Regions from separate parts of the Homo sapiens genome. Here region 1 is linked to region 2. A link means that fine-mapping ties the variant in region 2 to the expression of a gene that starts in the linked region. Tissue or cell type: thyroid. Region 2 holds a variant in brackets; the other region holds the start of a gene. All regions are shown on one strand. Distances are between the middles of the regions.

What was found. PIP is the estimated chance that this variant, and not a neighbour inherited with it, causes the effect.
Region 1: it holds the start of MROH2A, and the variant in region 2 is fine-mapped to the expression of MROH2A in thyroid (GTEx, PIP above 0.99).

What each region holds. Positions count from the first base shown.
Region 1 is chr2:233,777,036-233,779,724 of GRCh38, forward strand. It overlaps MROH2A (maestro heat like repeat family member 2A), which reads left to right and starts at 1,295. Exons shown (of 42, transcript NM_001394639.1): 1 at 1,295-1,446; 2 at 2,310-2,417; 3 at 2,636-2,689. The coding sequence starts at 2,324.
Region 2 is chr2:233,798,389-233,801,077 of GRCh38, forward strand. MROH2A (maestro heat like repeat family member 2A) reads left to right here. Exons shown (of 42, transcript NM_001394639.1): 12 at 386-462; 13 at 1,392-1,511; 14 at 1,817-1,927. Among named protein-coding and RNA genes, the nearest start is that of MROH2A, 21 kb to the left of the region's middle. The variant G/A (reference allele first, on the strand shown) is at 1,595.

The DNA of each region.
Region 1 (2,689 bases), 21 kb before region 2:
GATACATGGGTGAGACTCTAGTTGTGCTTGGCTGGACAGAGCACAGATCCACAGACCCACGCAGGTGACTCATACACTTGTGAACTATAATAATCGGTTGTTTTCAGTCATTAAGTTTTGAGGTGGTTTGTTACACAGCAATTGCTGACACATTCACTTCTGGCTCTAAATGTATCACTTTTCATGTGTTGAGTCTGAAGACCTTCAGAGGACAGAGATGTGTTCCACCTACCCTATATCCACTGCAGCATGGAAAGCCATGCTTAGCTGCACACAGTAGGCGTGCAGTCTGGGCCTGTGGAATGGACTTGGCAACCACATCACCTCAGTGATCTTTCAAACGGAAAAGAAGGCTCAGTGGGGAGTGGGAGGAGGTAGTGCAGAGGGGCAGTCCTGTGAAAGAAGGGGCATGGGATAGCTGCTTGTGTCTATTTCATGTTGATCAATGTATCTCCAAGTGCAGAACAAGGAATAACGCAGGAATTTTATGAGGAAGAAATGTTGGGCATGATAAGAAAGCTCATTTTCTAACCATCTGAATTCCATGAAGTAGAAAGAGGCTGGTCCTGAGAGTAATGAGCTCCCTCGTATTGGAGGTGTCCAAGCACAGGCTGAGGAACTCCCATTTGGCTGGATGGGCAAACTTGGAGTGGAAATTCCACTTAAGCAACCTTGGCCCTAGATGTCTCTGAGTTTTGTTCCTGTTGTCTTGCAGTGCATAGAAAGATTTCCCAAAGGCCAATATTTCATTGTTGTACCTATGATCTGGATCATCTCTCCTAGCTATAAATGACAGGGAAATCCTTTGGGCTCCACTTTTGGTTTAGGAAATCAGGGTGCCTCCTCTCCTACCTGTCTTTGATGTTCTTTATCTTGTAAGTATTGTGCTAGTGGAAATCCAATTTCTTATCCTGCAAGTCATCCAGTCCCCGGGAAGGAGGAGTGCTCTCCCCAGGGCCTCTCAGTCTGCCCCTCCTCTCCTCTCCAACTGTCCTGACCACACCTCCCCACCCAGGGCTCACATGACTGTGTTCCCCTGGGACTTGGTTGTAAGCCATCCCCACTTCTACCATCTCCCTTTCCCAAACAGGCCCCTGTACTTCAGCACACACATGTGAATAACAGAAATGTTGAATGACAACATGATGTGGAGTTTTCACCCCAGAGCCCTGTGCACTCTTCAAAGACCTGGGTTGATAGAGACTCAGGGAGGCAGTTGGATCTCAAAGTTCCGAGGGTCTGGGATCTAACGGTGATAGTTCTAGTGAAACCCTCCCACCCTTCCAGGAGACCCATTCCTATAAGAAATATGACTGAAGAGCCCAGCTGTCTCACTTTGATAACCAATTCTTCCATTTGCATTTCCATTGATGTGTATTGGGCCAAGAGCAGAGCTTTTTCTTGTGGTTAATATCTGTTTAATCCAGAAGAAGACCCTAAGGAAAGGTCAGTATTTAGGTCCCAGAGTAGCTCTTTAAAATCCTTTAAAGGAAAAGAGAGTATGGGATAGTAAAGGGCCATGGGATGGATCTTTGAGGATCAAGGAACTTGGGACAGGAGGAGAAAGGATCTGAGAGCCTTTCTTCCACCATCTCGACATCTATGTTGGTGTTTCTCAATTTTTAAGAAGCTGTGGATGTTGAGAGAACCCCTTAAAGGAGTTATGAGAGATACTGATATGAATTTCTCATTAGCCATTAATTATCAGTGTGTAGAAGAGAGGGCGAGAGGGCTCTATTAAACTAAGGATATTATCTATTGCTGTGTAACAAATTATCATAAACTCAGTGGCTTAAAAGAACATCCATTGATTATCTCACGGTTCCACTGGCCAGGAGTCTAGGCATGGCTTTCCTTGGTCCTTTGTTTAGGGTCTCAGAGACTGCAGTCCTTTCTGGAGTTCAGCTTCCTCTTCCAAGCTCATGTGCTTATTGGAGAATTCAGTTTCTTATGGTTGTAGGACTGAGGCCCTCAGTTCCTTGCTACGTGGCCCTCACCACAGGCAGTTTGCATCATGGCTGTTTACTTTTCAAGGCCAGTAGAATGTTTCTGTTCAATCTGATAAGAGGGAATCTCATGTGGCATAGTGTGATCATGGGAATGACATCCCACCATCTTTGCCATATGATGTAATCCACTCGAGAGAGGGTCACCCATCACCTTTGCCATATTCTGTTGATTAGAAGGAAGTCACAGGTTCCACCCACACACCCTCAAGGGGATGGCTTTATGGAAGGGTGTGGGTCGTTGGGGTCATCTTAAGGTGTGTGTCACACCCCGTATTTTACAAATTCTGTTGATCTCAAAAGAGCTTGAGGAAGAGATGACTGAAGCCATTACAGAAGCAGCAGTAGCCTCAAGTGAGGAGGTGTCAGAGGAAAGAGACGACCTGGGGCCTCTTGAATTACATGACAGTGGTAAGAATGTCATCCACATTTCTGCTTTCCTGCCCCATCTCAGACACTAACTCTTTGACTGCAGCCCCAGCCTAGGTCTCCCTTTCTCCATCTGCACAGTGGACATCATACCACACATGAAGCTGGAGCTGCGCAGGTGGAGGCAAGGCCAGGGACACAAGGGCACCTCCTGTCATGGTCATTTCCACACTGCACCTGGGTGGCGTTTGTTTTCATAGGTACCTTTCAACAAGTCGTGAACCTTCTGGACATCATTGACAGCGAGTCAGCAA
Region 2 (2,689 bases):
AGGGAAGGCCTGGTGTCAGGACCCATGCTCTTCACGGTGGTGCTTTGCAACCTCTGTGTGCCCACTGCATGCCCACTTCATGCCCAGTGCTCTGTGCCCAGCTGCAGGACACTAAAGAGCTCGTAGGCAGAGATCTTGCCCTCAAGGCGAGTTCACCTGGGTTCAAATGAGATACACACAAAGCAGTGGCCAAGGGAACGAGGCGTGGAAACAACAGAGGGGAGGGAGATGGCCAGGGAGAGCATGGCCAGGGAGGCTCCTAAGAAAGTGCCCCTGAGCTTGGAGAATGTGGGAGGAGACAGAACGTGAGGCCCTGATGTGGGACGAGCCACCTGACCTCTCCCTGAGCCACAGCCCTCCAGCCCACCCAGTTTTCCTCTTTCAGAGCCCAGGATGAGTATCAGGGCCATCTACCTGGCTATCCGGGTAGTCAAGAACACCATCTCTGATACCCGGTCCAAGGTAACAGGGCAGAGACCTGGAAATGGGGGGCACTCAGGGGACCCTGCCAGGGAGGCAAAGGGAAGTCTGGGCTCTGGGAGGCAGAGGCTTTTGATGGAAAACCCGGCTTTCCATCGGGTCTCGACTGGGGCTGCAGAATGGTGAGGCCAGTGAAAGCTGAGGTTCCACTCTCGAGACCTCATTCTCTCCATGGATCTAGAGTTTTTGAGTGGTGTGTCTCAGGCACCACCTTGGACCCAACAGAGGCCGAGTAAATCCAGCTGCAGCTAGAGTCACTTGGCTGTCAAGGGTTTTGTGAGGTCTTTATCGCATGTGAAAAAAGCAACTAAGGGGTACTCCTCTACCCATCCTCAAAAGGCTGAAAACCACAGTCCCAGGCTCCATGGCAGCCACATCCACCTTGGAGTGGAGCTTGGTTCTGGCCATGGGCTGGGGAAGGGAGGTCCGGCATAGTGAGGGGTCTGCACAGCAGTTTTGAGGAACATCAGAGAGGGAATGGAGGAGAATGGGGGCTAGAGATTTAGGCAGAGCTGTCTTCAGTCCCTGGAGGCTGTGGAGGGAAGCGAGAAGAGGCTCGTTCTGCATCTCCTTCACATAGTGATTCTCATCAATGGAGCAAGCCCCAGGGGGTCCAGGATAACAGATGGGCTCCCCACGGCAAGGGCTGCTAGAATGGAGCAGCCGAGGTTGGAAGGGAGGGAGGGAGCTTTGTGTCTCTCCAAGGCTCAATTAGGCTCCCAGGTGGGCATGCTGCAGAGTGGGACCCCTGGATGAGGCAGGGGGAGGTGGACAGAGTGGGCAGTAATCAGGTAGTCCCTGAGGCCCCTTCTAGCCCAGAGCACCCCCAATTCCTAGCTCTCTATGTCACAGGATTGGGTGCCTTGGAGCCCACCCCAACCCCCAGCATGTCCACGGTCCTGTCCCCTCAGGTGAGGATGGCTATTCTCCACATCATTGGGCAGTTGGCTCTCTGTGGCTACCAGGAGAGAATCAAAGGCTGGGGCCTGAAGTACCTGTCTGTGCAGCTGACCTTATCCACCTACAAACTGGTGAGTGGCCCTGATACGCAGACCGCAGAGCAGCTGGACTTGGAAATGGTTTCCACAGTGCTGAGGGGAGAATGCCACTCAGC[G/A]TACCTGTGTTCAAACCTGCGTATCCATTCATGACAGGAGTTCATAGACACAGTGAACCTGCAGGTGACAATGTGTGGGGTCCTAGATATATGCACAGCTCTGAGCATTCTGTAGACTCAGTATCTGGGCATGGAGCCCCTGGGGAGTGAGGAGACCACACCTGAGACCACGACAAACCTCTGCTAGGCCACAGGTGGGAATCCCTTGGTTCTTTCTTCCAGACAAATCGCCGGGAGAAGTTTTATCAGAGGGACTTGGAGGAGAGGATGGTCCACAAAGTCACCATGGACACTGTGAAGATCATTACCTCTTCTGTCAGTGGGATGACCACCGTGAGTGGGCCCTGCCCCACCCGCACAGTGGGTCACCACGCCAGGCTGGGGGTGAACCACACATGCCCAGAATTCCACATCTTTGCTTCTTCCGTTCCTGCTGTCTGGAGTGTTGAGGGGCCTTCCTCTTCCAGTTGCCTGGAATTACTCAAAACCCAGTTCCAAAGCCAGGTCCTTGATGAGAACTTACTCTTCATCTCTGTACCCCTAGAGGCTGGGCAGTGCACGACCTCAGCATGGCTGGCAGTATCAGTCTGTATCATTTGAGCAAGTACCTGAAATGTGTCCATTACTTTAAGGCCCGTGTGTGTGTGTATGTGTGTGTGTGTGTGTGTGTGTGTGTCTGTGTGTAGACCAATGATTTTCATGGTTTAATTTTGTAAACATTCATTGAGTTCTAACTCTGTGAAAGACAGGACAGAGGAGTGTGCACTAGGAGGACTCAGTATGACGGGAAGGAGTGGAAGGAGTTCACAGACTATGGGAGAAACAAATGTGTCAACTTTTAATTGCAACAAAATGTGACGTAGCAATAAGAGGAAAAATGTACCATGAGAACATCAAGGAGGGAATGATTACTCACTGAGGCTGCAGGCTAGATGATCCCTGTCCAGCGACAGCTTTTTTTAATTGCAGAAATAATAATAATCATCATCATCATCATAGCTACAGTCCATGTGGCACCCACATATAGCAGGTATACTGTACTAGGTGTGCAACCTGTGCAATCTTGTTTAATTATCCCAGCAACTACCTGCATAG